Regions from separate parts of the Homo sapiens genome. Here region 2 is linked to region 1. A link means that fine-mapping ties the variant in region 1 to the expression of a gene that starts in the linked region. Tissue or cell type: whole blood. Region 1 holds a variant in brackets; the other region holds the start of a gene. All regions are shown on one strand. Distances are from middle to middle.

Region 1 (8,103 bases):
GTCTCCAGGCCCTGGAGCCTCATTAGCAGCTTCTTGAGCCACAGAGGGCTCAGAGCCAAGCCTCGAGTTTGACTAATGATCCTCCCGAGGTCCTAGCAGCCTGTGAGGGCTGCCCTTCCTCCCAGCCATGGAGTCCAGAGCATTCAGAACAGGGCAGGAGCAGAAGGAGGGGGTGAAGGTGATGGGCCAGGCCTGTGTTCTCAGCTTAGGACTCCCTGTCACTCTGTGCGCTTGGGCAGATCTTGTTTCTTTCTGGACCTCAGTCTTCCCATTTGTGCAGTGGGAATGGTAACCCTCACCTTGTATGGAACCGCTCTTTTTTTTTTTTTTGAGACAGAGTCTTGCTCTGTTGCCCAGCTCACTGCAACCTCCGCCTCCCAGGTTCAAGCGATTCTCATGAGTCAGCCTCCTGAATGGCTAGGATTACAGGCACGCACCACCACGCCCAGCTAATTTTTGTATTCTTTTTTAGTAGAGACAGAGTTTTACCATGTTGGCCAGGCTGGTATCGAACTGGCCTCAAGTGATCCACCTGCCTTGGCCTCCCATGAGACGTGTTTTTGATACAGCTGTCTGTCCTGAAAGCAAAGTGGGGAGAGAGTGCCAGGAGTCAGGGCATTTTTACTTAGAAAGGGCACAGAGTTGACAGAAAAGTGGGGGTGAGGAGGTGGGGGAAAGGAACAGCCAGTGTTGAGCCCTTGCTGGGTTCCAGACAGTGAGGTTGGGAAGTCCTGGGTTTGAACCCTGCCTCCCTCGCTTGAGCCTGTGGGCAGCCTTCTGCCAGCACCTTCCGGTAGTATTGCCTCAAAAGCCTGTCCTGAGGCTCAGGGGTGCTAGTGTGAGCAGCCTGGCCCTGTGCCTGGCACCCAACAGGGCTCCATTAGGGCAGTAGTACCTCTCGCTGCAGTTAGCATTTTCATTTTCTTGGTCTCACATGTCCCATTAGGGAGCATTTCCCTTTGCCAACATCCCTTTTGATGGTAAGAGTTTTGTTTGTTGATGCAAACAAAAGTGTCCTTAATGAGCATGCAGTGGGGAGCAGCTTTTGGCTGAAGTCTGTACACTCAGGTGAGTGCCGGCCTCCTGGTGTGCCTCTGGTTCCTCCGCCTGGGTGCCCCCCATACCTGGAGTGGTTTTCTTCTAGAAAGAGCTGCTTATGGTCCTGATGGGGCTCAGCTCCACTTGGTCCCGTGCCCAGCAGGGCCAGGGGTCATTCACCCTGACTTGACAGGGTGAGGGGTTTTCCCTTCTCTGCCCAGATTGTGGCTATTGTCCTCATCTGCTTGGGGGACGCCTGTAGCAGCACTGCGGATGCTGCTGAGTAGGGTCTGGCACTCCCTTCTGGTATAGCCCCGCCTGCACCCTGTGTAGCCTCAGCACTTTGCCTGGGTGCCTCCTCCTCTCCCCAGACTGGGAGCCTTTTGAGGGAAGGGACCATGTGATTCACCTGGTTGTCAGTGTCCAGCTTGGGGCTGGTTGCAGAGTGGTCCACAGTGCCAAGGAGCTCATTTTTCAGAGGCAGACAGATCTGGGTTTGAATCCTGGCTTCAAACCAAGGTTGGTCTGCCTCCAAAGCATGTGTGTATTTTCTAGCTGGGTGACCCTGGACGAGTTACGTGCCCTCTCTGGGCCACAGTATTGTCATCTGTGAAGTAGGGCTGGATAATAGTCATCTACTCAGAGGTTATTGTGATAATTAAATGGAGATAAGTCATGGTAGTCACAGGCATTTCCCAGATGCGTCATAAGTAATAAAATCAATGTCTCAGTGTCCCCAGTCAATGTCTTTGAATTCATTCATTCAGTCAATGCATGTTTACTAAACATACTCTCTGGGTCAGGCCCTGGGCTAGGTGCTGGGTGCATAGCAGTGACTGAGACCTATATGGCCCTGCCCCCAGAGAACTGACATTCCCAGTGTAACATCAGAGCTCAAAGTCACAGAGTTACTTAATTATAACTTGGTAAAGGTAAGTATCTCAGATGAGAGCTGCCAAGGGCCATGAGACTGAGATAGGGGTCCTGGCCTAATCTGAATAGTCAGGGAGGCTTCCTGGAGAAAGAGGATGGACACTAAAGGACAAATGGAAGTCTACTGAGTAATGAGGAGAAGGAAGAACCTGGAGCAGGGAGCAGGGGTGGGGGCTGCTGTGGGGGAGGCAGAGAAATGAGGCTGGGGGAGTGCATTGAGAGTTTGTGTCTTATTTTCTAGGGAAGTGACAGGACTGGGTTGGTCTATGTGGGGCGAGAGTAGATGTAGCTGCAGACACTGCTACAGTTGTCCCTGGGCGAGGAGATGGGGGATTGGGCCAGGGTGGTGCCAGTAGGATGGAGAGGAGGAGATGGATTTCAGGAGAATGGAGGCGCTCAGATTGGGCTGACTGGATGGAGGGAGGGAAAGCAAAGCAGCCAGTGGGGCTGCCAGCCTTGGGGTGGGCTGGATGGGTGGATGGTGGCGCTGGTCACTAGGCAGGAGCTGGTGGTAGATGTGGACGGAAGTCTCGGGGAAGGTTGCAGGGAGGCATGAGAAAGAGGAAAGCTCACACACTCTGAGAACAACAGCTGGAAGGAGGCCGAGGGAGCCTCCAAGCCTCGCGGAGATGGGAACCTGAGCCTGGAGATGGGGAGGATTCATCCGGGTCTCACGAAGGCTTGTGGCAGAGTTGGAATCCGAACCCAGTATTCCTTTACATTCCGATTCGCTGGAAGCACACGCCCCCATTTCCTCAGGAAGCCGGACATCCCCTCACTGTGTTCCCCCATCCTATCCCCCCTCCCCCTACCCAGGTCATCCCAGACTGGAAGGAGCAGGAATGGGACCCCGAAAAGCCCAACGCCTACGCGGGCATCTTCCACTTCCACTTCTGGCGCTTCGGGGAATGGGTGGACGTGGTCATCGATGACCGGCTGCCCACAGTCAACAACCAGCTCATCTACTGCCACTCCAACTCCCGCAATGAGTTTTGGTGCGCCCTAGTGGAGAAGGCCTATGCCAAGTAGGTGCCAGCAGCAGGCAGGTGGGTGGGAGGCCCAGACGGGGGTGGCACCGGATGGGCTCCTCGTGGTATTCCGTTAGCCAGGGCTTTAGGCACAGAGAAGTGAGGGGCTGGTGCAGGCACGCAGCAGGCTCAACCGCCAGGCCTGAGGGCATAGTCAGCTGAGCCTGTGCTGGGTGGGGTGGAGGCCTGGGCCCTGTAAGGAGAGGAATGTTGGTTACTCCCATTTTAGGGGGAGAAGACTGAGGCCCAGGCAACATCCTGTAGGTAGCTGGGGGCAGAGGCAGCACTCACATTTAGGACCATTCTCGAAGGTTCATGCTGCCATGCCCTGCCTGGGGCCTTGGTTGGGGAAGTGGTAACTGAGCTGGGGCCTGGTTGTGCAGGGTGGGCCACGTGCCTGCCTTCCCCGCCTGCTGGGCCTCCCTCTTGTCCACCATCCGCCTCTGCCTGGCTGACTGTCCATTCTGTCTTTGCTGACCCCTCCTTCTGCTCCGTGCCTTCTGCTTCTGTGTCCCCAGTGCCCAACACAGAGCCCAGCATAGAATGGGCACAAGCAAAGTTTTGCTGAGCTGTGGGGAACCCTGGGGAAGAGTGACTCGCGCAGGCCGTTGCAGGGCAGGGATACGCCTAGGCCAGGAGGGAGGAGGGAGGAGGGGCAGTGGGGTCAGAGGCCAGCCTCGCCAGCTCTAGGTGAGCCACTCTCTGGTTCCTCCTGCTAGGCCCATTTGTCAATCTTGCTGAAAAAATGTGTGTGTAGGGGCAGGAGCAAGGAGAGAGAGAGATAGAAAACAAGAGAAAGGGGGAGAGAGGAAAAGGAAAGACAAAAACTCCCAACATCAAAAACCCAAGAAAACACATTGGCAGGTTCCACTTTCAATCCTAAGAAAGGAAAGCCAGCCCCCTGGTGGCCACTGAGTCTCCACCACCTGGATGCAGGTCGACCCAGTGGCCTTGGTTGTTTTTTGTTTTTTGAAAAAACACAGTTTCATTGTGGTAAAATAGACAAAACATAATGCTTCTCATTTTAACCATATGGAAACATACAATTCAGTGGCATTCATTATGATCACAGTGCTATGGGCCATCACCACTATCTATCCCCAGAACCTTCTCATCATTCCCAGCAGGAGGTCTATACCCATCCGACAGTAACTCCTTCCCCTCCCCCTGACCATTGTTGGCACTTTGGAAAAGAGTTGCTTTTTTTTTTTTGGACAGCTGATTTTTTAAGATTGAGCCACTAAGGCTTAGGGGAATTTAAGCCTTATATGTTGGCCCGAGTGTTAAGAACTGGGTTCCAGTGTTGGCTCCGCCGTGGCCTGCTGCGTGACTGTAACAGGTTGTTTGACCCCTCTGAGTTTCAAAAACCTCCCCTATGAGGTAAAGGATGCAGCCTGGCTGGGGAGCATGAGCTGGG[A/C]AGTCTTTCCACATTGCTTCCCAGACTGGCAGGCTGTTACCAGGCCCTGGATGGAGGCAACACAGCAGACGCACTGGTGGACTTCACGGGTGGTGTTTCTGAGCCCATCGACCTGACCGAGGGTGACTTTGCCAACGATGAGACTAAGAGGAACCAGCTCTTTGAGCGCATGTTAAAGGTGCACAGCCGGGGCGGCCTCATCAGTGCCTCCATCAAGGTGAGAACACGGCAGTCCCCAGAGGCGACCCCTCCCCTTCACCCTCGCTGACTGAGATGGGAGACAACTGTGACATCCCACGCTCAGGTCAGCTCCTACGTATTCAGACCCTCAGCCTCGTGGGGGAGGGGAGAAGTTGGAAGGTGCAACCCCCTGCCCAGACCCTCTAGGCTGTGAAAAGCCTTTCCCGCACTGTTCAACCAAAACTTCTTTTCTGATCCTCTTGGGTTATGAACGTCTGTGCATCTGAGGGTGGTCCTGATTTCATTACTTGCTCGTGTTTTGGATGAGAAAGCTGAGGCCCAGTGAAAGCCAAGTTCAAACCCAACTTTAGCAGACCCTGTGCTGTGCTGGTAAACTGCCTCCAGCAAAGTAAAAAGCCCCGGTTTGTAGCATTTGCTAATTACTGTGGTGTAAATACTCCCACCATGGCTGATTTCCAACTACCCACATTTAACAACCAGCTATTAACAATATTCCTGGCCGGGCATGGTGGCACATGCCTGTAATCCCAGCTACTCGGGAGGCTGAGGCAGGAGAATTGCTTGAACCCGGGAGGCAGAAATTGTGGTGAGCCAAGATCGCGCCATTGCACTCCAGCCTGGGCAACAAGAGCAAAACTCCATCCAAAAAAAAAACAAAAAACAAAACAATGTTCCTGAATATTTAACAATTCCTGGAATATTTAACAATTTAAATATTCCCGAATATTTAACAACAGCTGAGCCAGTGCACGTGGGCCCCAGCATTCCCCTGGGCTGACCCACTATGGGCACCTTCCTTTACTGAGACTGCTGCCCATGGGGGTTTTAAAGCTCTGTGAACACAGCACTGCCCCATGACTGCAATTCCCATCCCATCCTGTAGGTCCCGTGCAGCCTCCTAGCCCTCCAGCACCTGAGTCCCTGGTCTGGGTTCCAGTGTGGCCCTGCCTCTCTGAGCAACTGTGTCCCTCCACAGGCAGTGACAGCAGCTGACATGGAGGCCCGCCTGGCGTGCGGCCTGGTAAAGGGCCACGCATACGCCGTCACTGATGTGCGCAAGGTGCGCCTGGGCCACGGCCTACTGGCCTTCTTCAAGTCAGAGAAGTTGGACATGATCCGCCTGCGCAACCCCTGGGGCGAGCGGGAGTGGAACGGGCCCTGGAGTGACACGTGAGGCCTGGGGATGGGGGTGCAGGCACAGGGCATGAGGGCTTGGACAAGGACGGGTGGGCTTCTTGGAGGAGTTGGCACTGGGGCTGGGCCTTGAAGGATCTGGGGGAGGATGACACTAGGAACGAAGAAGGGAGAATTACTTTGCAGTGGTTGTATGGGGTGATGGATTGAGCACAAGAAAGGCCTGGGGCTGGAGGCCATCAGGGGTGTAGAGACCAGCTTGGTGAGTGGGTGCGGGAGGGGAGCAGGGAGGGAGGCCACAGCCCTGAGCAAATGGGGGACTCCTCTGTGCTTGGCTTATGGCCCTGGTAAGGCCAAGATGGGAGTGGAGCCCAGGTGCTAAGTGAAGGAGCCCTCTTCACTGGGGGTCGCACCCCCCTTCCCCCCAGTCTGCAGCTTTACTTTCAGACCTCCCAGCCCCTGTCATGGTGGCAGCTCACGGTCCCTTGTGGGAGGAGACAGGCAGGGCTTCCTGGAGAGGGGCTGGGCATGGCCTCAGTGCCCCTGGCCACACCGTGCCGCTGGAGGCCTGGTGCAAGACTGCCCCTCGTGCCTCCTCGCCTTTGCCAGACAGATTCTGGTGGGGCTGCCTCTTAGACAGCTCCCTTTCTCCTCCCCGGCCCTGACACCCCAGCTCGGAGGAGTGGCAGAAAGTGAGCAAGAGTGAGCGGGAGAAGATGGGTGTGACCGTGCAGGACGACGGTGAGTTCTGGTGAGTGTGTATGTGCCCTGGGCGTCCGGGGCTGAGGGGGCTTCCCACGGGCCTGGCGGGGAGCACCAGGTGGGGAGTCAGGAGCCAGGCCTCTCCTGCATGCCCCATCATCAATTTGCTGTGTGGCCTTGGACAAGTCACACCATCTCAGAGCCTGTTTCCTCCTCTGTAAAATTAGTTGGGCAGTACCAGGCCCTTTCATCCCCACAGTCCCCTCTGCCGAACTGAGGGGTCCTGGAGCCGCTGTGGCACCCAGACCGAGCCTTTGGCATGCAGGTCAGGGAGCCGTCTAAGAGGTGGGCCCACCAGGATCTCCCCGGCAAGGGTAAGGAGGCATGAAGCACAGTCCAGCACCAGCAGTATGGTGTGGCCAGGGGCACTGGGGCTATGCCCAGCCCCTCTCCAGGAAGCCCTGCCCTCAGCCTGCCTCCAGGGGCCCTCTGGCAGCCTGATTTCTGAAATTAGGTAGCAGAGGCTCCTAGAGGAACTAGCTTCTAAGCTGAGACTTGAGGTACAGAGTAGGCCTTGGTGGGCAAGGAAGAGGACGTGGCTCAGAGGTGAGAGAACACAGCTGTGTTTGAGAAGGGAGCTAAGCAGGTACATGGGTGAGCTGGGAAGATGACAGCAGCTCAGCTTAAAGAGCCCAGTAATTGGCTGGGTACAGTGGCTCATGTCTATAATCCCAGCACTTTGGGAGGTCAAGGTAGAAGGATTGCTTGAGTCCAGGAGTTTGAGACCAGCCTGGGCAGCATAGTGGGACCCCATCTCTACAAAAATGAAAAATTAGCTGGGTGTGATGATGTACCCCTGTAGTCTCAGCTACTCTAGAGGCTGAGAGGGGAGGATTGCTTGAGCCCAGGAGGTTGAGTTTATAGTGAGCCATGATCGCACCACTGCACTCCATCCTGGGCTAAAGAGCAAGACCCTGTTTCAAAAACAAAAAGAAAAACCCCAGTAGTAATAAAAGTTCATCCTGCATTCATCCAGCCTGCATGAGTCCTGAATGTGGGCTAGGCTCAGTGTCACCCTTCAGCAGAACCTGATATGGAAACTCAGTCCCTTCCTGGAGGGGTATTGGCATCCTGTGTGTGCTGGATTCTGTCAGGGCCCCCAGGCAGACTGGGGGCAGATGGCAGTGGTCCTGGCACCCAATGATGAACCCTTCTGCAGGTGTCAGGTCAGCTGCTGCAGGAGGCCACCCAGGCCACTTTGCCAGTCTTGCTCAGGAGTCAGCAGATAAAAACACGGCAGAGCTCCTTGCCTTTAGAAAGAGTTTCTTCCAAAGGCCTTTCTCTTACATGTTCACGGTTAATTCACTGCCCCCTGCCCCCACCAGCTCCCTGGAGGCGTTCACAGTGTGCAGTGACCATAGCAACACCCTGGCCACCGCAGCAGGCTCACCATGGGGTTCCCACCATCCACTTACTCAGGCCTCTCAACAGCCATGGAAGATCCTGGATGCAGATGTGCTTTATAAACTGTACAGGGCAGCAGACAGTAGTTATTAACACCATTCACAATAGTAACAGCCAGCGTTTGCCAGTGCGTGCTCTGTCAGCCGAAAGTTGCACTGCCTGCTTTGATTGCATTACCTAATTCCT
Region 2 (8,103 bases), 46 kb before region 1:
AAAAAACATGATTATCATAAGTTTCACCTGGGAAATCCTATTACACACAGGAGCAGTGAAGATAGGGGTTTTCTAACCTGGGCAGAGAAGATTCTGTCTCTAGGCTCTGGTAAGATAGAGGGTATAGAGTCTGGCAGAACCAGGAAGAGAGGGGTGGATCAGCTCTGGGTGACAAAAGCTCTCCCAGGTAGAGGAGAAAGGGTTGTGCTATGAGGAAATGAGTTCCCAGTTACAGTGGCATGCAAGCAGAGGTGGGACAGCCAGTCAAGGAGCCTGCAGAGGTGACCTTTTCCTGGAGGAGATAGGAAGAGGGGAGGGAAAGGCCACAAGAGTGGAGTCAGACAGGGTAGGTTTGGATTCCAGTTACTAATTGTGTGACCTGGGGCATCTCCCTGAGGCTTGGTTCTGTCATCTGGAAAATGGACTAATCAGAGCTGCTGCAGAGGGCGGTTGTGAGAAATGGGAAGTGCACCTCCACATCAGGCCCTGCGATGGTACCATTAGATGACTCAGTTTACAAAAACTGACCAGCAGGATCCCGGGCCAGAGCATCATCAAAGTCCCACCTTTTCCCCAACCTTGTTGGGCAGATCTGGCTCTTCCTGGCCTATCTTGGGGACCTCTCTCTCCCCCAAGAGCAGGGCCAATGCTCTCTCCACCCGGCCACCAGGGTGGGTGTCCTGGGCAGGTCACTCTCGCTAGGCCTCTTTCCTCACCTGTCGGAGAAGGTGGAGCTGCTGGAGATGATTAAAGGACTGGGCCCTTCCAGTGCTAACCTGCTAGGGTGGCTGGGCTTCTCACTGGCCATGAGTGCATGTCTCTGCTTCTGGGACTCAATGTCTTCACAAAATGAGGGGCTGGGCCAGATGACAATAACACCAGCTAGCACATGCTGAGCTCTTACTCCAAGCAAAGGGCAACCATGAGGGCTCCGTATGTCCCGGCCCATTTAATCCCACAACAACTCCATGGTGCGACTGTTGCTATGCTGGCTTTATAGGAGAGGATACTGGCACAGTGAGGTTGGGTCACTTGTCTGAGGTCACTCAGCTAATATGAGCCCAGGCAGAGCCCATGCTTGCAACTACTGCACAATACCCTCTTGTGGCTCCAATGCTTTGAGATACAGAAGGGGGTCTGAGCATCCTCTGAACCCCACTGTTTTGTGGGCTGAGGCAAACATGCCTTCTCAGACACAACCCCAGCCCCACCTTGGAACACATGGGAGTTGCCCAGCCCAGAGACAATGCTGCCCAGTATCCTACACAACCGGGCCTTTATCGATCCCCGTGACTTGCCTGTACCTGGTCATCACACACTCCAGCTAGAAGCCCATTTTACAGACAGGGAAAAGGATAGAGGACCTGCCCAGATCACACAGCCAGTAACTGGCAGAGTGAGGACTGGAGCCCAGATCTACTTGGCTCTACCAAGTGCTGCTGTCTTCCTGACAATGACCCTTGGCCTCTGCCCTCCAGGAACTTTGGCCTTGCAGGGGAAACCTTGGCCCCACCAGCAACTCTGAGAGACGCAGCCTGAGAAGGGCCATAGGTGAGGGGTGGATGCTGAGCAAGGGAGCTTTGGGATGCTGCAGCACAGGGAGGAAGGAAGAGTCCTTCAGACGGCCACAGATCAGCACGGGCATGGTTTCAGGTGGGGAGAGTAGAGCCCCTGAAGTGACTTTTGAAGGGCTGGTGAAGCTGCTGCTCCCAGTACAGGGCATGGAATAAGGTTAGGGGAGATGGGGGAGTCAGATGGGGTGCAGTCTTAGAACACTCTTCTATGGGTGGCGGGTCTCAGCTGCATATGTGAAAGTCTTCTTTGGTTGGATAGGAGGCTCCTGAGGGGGCTGGGGCTACTCTTAAGGGAGAAGCATCTGGGTGGCCTGGGACAGAGGCAGGGAGGTTGGGGAGAAGCTAGAGAAGTCCAGGTGACTGAGAGTGAGGTGAGGCAGAGACTCCTCTTAGTGGAAATAAAGGAAAATCATGAGTCTTTTCAGGGGGAATTTCAGGCAGCTAGCTAGCTTTGAGAAGTAAATGAGCACCTTGACAAGCAAGAAGGTAATTGAAGCTTCAAACAAGGGCCACCCAAATAAGTTAGAGCCACAAGATGTCTGGTTCCCTATAGAAACTAAAGATAACATCTTGACCTATGTCCCTGAATTGTTTTTCACAGCTGTCACTTAGGCCTCAGATAAGGGGAAACTGAGGGCTGTTCTTTAAATTTCTTCCCAAGGGTTCTGTAAAGAGTCACACCCATAAGCCAATGCTTAACTCTCCTATCTGTGGACCCCAGGTTTTTAGACAGTCTTGCTTCCTAAGCCAATTGCAAATCACAGAATCTCTGAATCCACCTATGACCCTGCCTCAAAATGTCTCACCTTTTTGGGCCAAGCCAATGTATAGCTCCAGAGTATTTATTTATGACTTTGCCTATAACCTCTGTCTCCCCACCTTTAAAAAGCCTTACATGTAAACCATTGGGGAGTACGGGTCTTAAGCATTAGCCGACCTATTCTCCTTGCTTGGCACCCTGCAATAAATGCCTCCCTTTCTGCCGCTGCAAATCCTGGTGTCAGTGTTTGGCTTTGCTGCACTGGGTGGGCGGACCCAAGTTTGTTTCGGTAACACAAGAGGTTGACGAAATCATTAACTGAGACTTCGAAACAAATTGGAGGCGGAGAATGAACGGGCCTGAGACGCTCCACCAGCGAGTGGGCCGATGGGCTCATCAGATCAGATGGGCGTCTGTCCTGCTGCCTCAGGGCGGGGGGTGGTGGCACCCCTGAGCTCCTACTGTAGGCAAGAACTAGTCACTCCTAAACCTTCTCTATCGGATTCCCCAAGCGGCCTGGGGTGGGTAGAGATTATAGTCCCCGTTTTACAGATCAGGAAATGCAGGCTCCGTGCCATCCCAGGGCATTCCGGTAGCCAGTCACGGACAGAGAGTCAAACATGAGCCCGAGCCCGGGAGCCCATGGCAGCACGGGATTAAGTCCTCAACACGGGCCGGGGTCAGTTTTCCCATCTGACAGAGGCCCTCTGCTGCTCACAGGGGCCTGGGCTCCCACTTCTCCATCCGAACACTTGGGATGGATGTGAAGGTGGAGCCCGGAAAGGGAGGGGCGCCGCCCACCAAGTCCTGGTTCTGGCAGGCACCCTGGCCCTTGCGGGTCCTCGGTACTACACGCCGGCCCCAAGTCAGCCGCGGCCCCGGCCCGCCCTGTGGGGGCTGAACCCCAGCCCCGGCCCGATCCCTCACGGTGCAGCCAGCCCTTGGGAGGCTGCCCATGGGGATGCGCACCAACCGCAGACAGATAGGCTGGGAAGGAGAGAGAACGAGGGCCCGACCGAGCCGGTAGAGGCGGTGGGTGCCGCTAGGGGCCCCAAGTCCGCGTTCAACACAGGGGCTGGAATGAGACCGCTCCTCTGAGCGGCCGCCCACCGCACCAGTGCGCATGGGCGCACCCGGCCACCGGGCCGCCCACCCCGCCCCACGGGAGACCACGCCTCCGGCTCGCAACGGGCAAATGGGCGGAGGCCGCGGGCGGGGCGGGGCGGAGCCGGGCCCAGCTGGCCGAACCCGGGGAATGCGAGCGCCAGCCCCCGCCGCAGGCCAGTCCCAGCTGGATCTCCGGCCAGAGCCCGAGGCTGCTGCGCCGGGCGGCTGCAGCCTCCGCTCCAGCGCCCGCGCCGTGCCCTGCATCCCGGGAGCCCGGCTGGACCCGCGGCGGCTCGGCCGGTAGGAGGCGGGCGGAGGGAGGCGTGTGCTTCTGTGTGTGTGTGTGTGTGTGTTTCGGGGGGGTGTGTGCGGGTGCAGCGCGGGCCAGTGATTGCTCCGGGACCACGAATCAGTGGAGGGGGCTGCACCTCCCGCGGGCCCGGGGGGAAAGGAAGTGAGCGCTGGCTGGGGGGCGGGGTCCTGGAGCATCCGCCTGGGCCCCCTCGGCTCGTCCCCACCCCCACCCCCGGCGAGGAGTCTTTTTTTCACCTCCCTCTGGGTGTCTCCGAGTCGTTTTCCTAGTGCGGACGCGCTGGAAGCGCCTAACACCCGGGGCTAGACTGTCACTTCCTCTCATCTTCCTTACAGTTCCCCCCTTCTCTTCCCTGCTTAACCCCCCTTTCATCCCTGCAATCCACCAACCCCTTCTGGGTGCTCCACCACCCAGGCCTGGGGAAGGGGCAGGGCCGAGGCTCCTACTGCCCCAGCCTATCCGCTTCTTGGCACTACTCCCCAGGTTGAAAGGGGGCTTTTCTCCTTGACTGCAGGGCGGGCGCACGTGTGTGTGTGTGTGTGTGTGTGTGTGTGTGTGTGTGTTGCGGGAGTGTGGGGGAGTGGTCTGGGAGGGAATGGATCTTTGTTTCTCAGACCTCAGAGTTCCCACCTCTGTTCCTTTGCGTTGGGGGTCTCGGAAGACTGGCCTAGGGGACCAGAGGCGAAATAGGACAAAAGATCATTAACAGGTGCGACGTTCTCTCTCCCAGTCATTTCATGTGGTGGGATTCACCCCCAAGTTCCATACAGATCAGAAGAGTGGGGCACAGAGAAGCGAAGTCAGCTGCCCTCTCAGGATTGCTGAGCCAGAATTTGAACCCGGGTCCGCCTGGCTCTCATCCCAGAATCTTCTCCCTACACCTGTGGTTTAGAGAGAAAAGTACTGAGGGCGACTATCCCAGGACTCAGGGGAAAGAGAGATCTGGGCAGACTTCTTGGAAGAGAGGGGCTTACGGGTGAGGCTCAGCCAACTCAATGAGTCTGAGGCCTGCTGGGGGAACCACTGTGTTTTGCAAGGATTGACACCTCCCAGGGTCCTCGGGCTGGTCCTTGCTCCTGTCCCCAGGGTCTGGGGGTGGGGTGGTGTGGCTGCCTTTGCCTCCTGGGCAGGGTATGGTGGGCCCAGCTGCTGCTGCAGGCCAGGTCAGGCTAGTTGCCAGCACACAGAGGTGCTCAGGCGGGGTCTTTGCCCTGAGGAGCCTCTCTTCTGACAAGACAGGCAGTGGGTCCACAGATAAGGCCCTGTCCAGAGTTGTACCCAGTGCTGGGAGCACAAGACAGGGACTGATGGGTGCCCGGGAGCTGGGGATGAGTTCACTTGCAGATTCGTTGGGGCTGGGTCTTGAAATCCACCAAGCAGAAAAGAAAAGGCAGGTCATTGCAGCCCCAAGGAACAGCATGAGTAAAGGCCTGGCAGTGTGAAAATGAATGCTGGTGGGGTGGATTGCGGATTAGATAGGTCAGATGTGTGTCCAAGAAGGGCCACCTTTGGCTGCAGTAGTGGGTGGGCTTCCACTGAGGGCTATAAGGAGGAGGCCAAAGCAGGGAGAGGGCCCTCCCTTCTGCTCTCCTCTGCTCCCCACCCAGGGCTAGGCTTGGCAGGGGAGGAGGGACCCTGATAAAGTTTCCCAGAGCAGGGGTGCTGGGGGCAGGAGGTGCCCAGGGGCTAAGGGGCTACACAGGGTCCCAGTGCTGGGGGAAGGTAGGTGGGGCTGCCTCTGTGAGATGGGGACCACCATTGGGGGTGGAGCAGGTTGGGAGTAAGTTGACTGTTGGACAGGGTGGTTGTGAGATGCCTGTGGGTTTTTGTGGGTGACATCTGGGACACTGCTCCCAGGCCAGCACTGTCTCTGTCTGCTTCTGCGCCTGCTTTCCTGGCAGGCTGTCAGATCAGCCCTGGAGTCCTGGTCCCCAAACAGGAGGCCTCCTGCGCCCTCAGTGGGCACCCTCTCCTACCTGCAGGGCCTAAATCATGTGTCTGTTCTTTCTCTTGGCTGAGACCATCTCTGTACCTTCCTACTTGCCTATGACCTTGAGGCGGAGAACTTCCCTTTTCTGTCTCAGTTTTCTCATGTGCGGAATGGGGATAAATGCTGCCTATTCACAGGGACTCGGGGGATGATGAAGATGAACTTAGATCATGTCACTGAACGCATCTTTCTAAGTACATGGTGTCTGGTAGCCATTGTTACTAATAGCAGCTGGCAATCAGCATCACTTAGTTCCCTCCCTGGGGATGAGGGGCTGACTTTGGGAGAAGAAGGGTGGAAGGAAACAGTCCTCTCCTATTGAAACGGAAGCCTCTCTTGGCTTTAGTGGGTGAAGGGGACTTACGGGAGTGATCTGTATCTGCCTGACCAAGTCCCCTGGCTTCCCCCAAAAGCTTCTAGCCCTTGAGGAGAGGCAAGGGCTGAGCAGCCGGGAGCACCCTAGAGTACAGCATGTAAAGGTTGAACAGAAAGCCCAGCAGTGGGCCCTGGGCTCCCCCAGCTGCAAAGAGCAGGGTCTGCAACACCCCCCACCCCTCCCCAGCAGCCTCCTGGGCAGCTGGCAGCAGTCTCTCTGCAGCTGGGCTTTTCACCCGTTCTGTCTCTGTCCCCATCTATTCAAGTGTTTTGAGTGCCTTCAGAGCCCCTCCCAGGCACCTCTCAAGTGCCCTCAGAGAACTCTTCTGCCTCTCCATCCCTGGTCCCCGCTCAAAACTTTCCTGGGCTCACCGTGGTCCTGAGGCTTGGCCTTCCTGCTGCCCACCTCTGAGCCCTCCTCCAGGCTGGTGGAGACACCCTGGGATTGCCTTGCTTTAGTGCAGGCAGAGCTGCTCACTTGCCTATGAACTCAGGCTTTGCCTTTCCCTGCTCACCCAAGGCAAAGGGGCCAGGTCCCTTTGCGGTTGGAATCTGGATGTCTTAGGAAGCCAGCCTCAGGCTTGGATGGGGAAGCTGTGGATGATGTGTGCTTACCCGCAAGGGCCTGGGTTACTGCTCCCCATTCTGGTTGTTTGCACGTGTGCTTCCAGGGACCCAAGTTTTCCCAGGGATAGGGGTCTGGGTGGGCAACAGCTGAGGCTGCGGTGGCCTGTGGGTGTGTGCTGTGGTTTTCTCCCACAGTGGGCATGCAAGAGAAGGGGCTGGTGACCAGAGCACATCAAAGCCCATCCACTGGTCCCCAGCTGCCCTTCACTGTCAGGATGTGCCCCCGGGGATGGTGGGCAGAAGGCTGGGAGCCCATTGGCTTGACCCACCTGCCCTGCCCAGCCAGCCCCTGCTCAGCCAGTGCCCCCTGCTGCTGTGTAACTTCTGCCAGTTGGAGTGAGGTGGGACCCAAGTGATTTGTTACTCATAGCAGGAACTAAGAAACTGATGTGGGGTGACTGTTGTACAGCGGAGCAACTCAAGGTGTAAGAACTTCATTTCCCTCATGGGCTTCTCCGGGCAGGAGAGGCGGGTGGGACCCCATGACACCCCGGCTCCCATTAGCTATTCTTCAGGAACAGCATCGTTCAAGAGCATATTCCTTTCCTATCACTGTTGCGACAAATTGCCACACTTGGTGGCTGAAAACAACACAGATTTATGCTCTTACAGTTCCGGAGATGAGAAGTCCCCCATGAGTCTAATGGAGCTAAAATCCAGGCTGGCTTCTTCTGTGGGATCTAGGGGAGAGTCCATTCCCTGTCTCTTCCAGCCTCCGGTGGCTGCTGGCATTCCTTATGGCAACATTGCCCCAGTCTCTGCTTCTGTCTCATTGCTCTTTCCTCCTCTGCAGGCAGATCCTCTCCACCTCCCTCTTATAGGGACACTTGTGATTACATTCAGGGCCCACCCAGATAAGCCAAGATCGTCTCCCTGTCTCAAAATCCTTAATCGCATCTTCAGAGTCCCTTGTGCCATACAAGGTGTCATTCACAGGTTCTAGGGATTCGGTTGGGAGTATCTTTGGGGCCGTCATTCAGCCCACCCCAGGAGCTGACAGCAGCGTCACTGCAGGCACCATTCCCAGCTCCCGCCCCCACCCCAGTGCCCACCGAGGCTGGCTTCCCCAGTCACAGTCCTGTTTCCCCCAGGAGGTCACTCACAATGTCTGTCTCCCCTCCAGCCTGGGAGCCTTGGAGGCTGGGCGCTGCTGTAGCCCTGGCCCCAGTGTGCAGCCTGAGCCCCTGGTAGCCAGAGTTCAGGGATGTTTGGAAGAAGGGCATCCCTGGCACAGCCGCATGGGTGGTCCCCAATGTCTGGACCCTGCCTGCCTTTGACAGCGTGCTGGGCCTTTCAGGGTGGAGTGCAGCTCATTTCAGACATTCACGCAATAAGCCCAGTGCTTTGCAGGGTCATT

Evidence for each region. PIP is the estimated chance that this variant, and not a neighbour inherited with it, causes the effect.
Region 2: it holds the start of CAPN5, and the variant in region 1 is fine-mapped to the expression of CAPN5 in whole blood (TOPMed, PIP above 0.99).

The regions. Positions count from the first base shown.
Region 1 is chr11:77,109,802-77,117,904 of GRCh38, forward strand. CAPN5 (calpain 5) reads left to right here. Exons shown (of 13, transcript NM_004055.5): 4 at 2,788-2,996; 5 at 4,441-4,633; 6 at 5,594-5,787; 7 at 6,425-6,502. Among named protein-coding and RNA genes, the nearest start is that of OMP, 11 kb to the left of the region's middle. RefSeq lists enhancers at 3,323-3,917, 3,918-4,513, 4,514-5,107. The variant A/C (reference allele first, on the strand shown) is at 4,417.
Region 2 is chr11:77,063,354-77,071,456 of GRCh38, forward strand. CAPN5 (calpain 5) reads left to right here and starts at 3,618. Exons shown (of 13, transcript NM_004055.5): 1 at 3,618-3,741. LOC105369400 (a long non-coding RNA gene) reads right to left here and starts at 370. Exons shown (of 3, transcript XR_950341.1): 1 at 1-370. RefSeq lists an enhancer at 2,777-3,277 and a silencer at 3,134-3,823.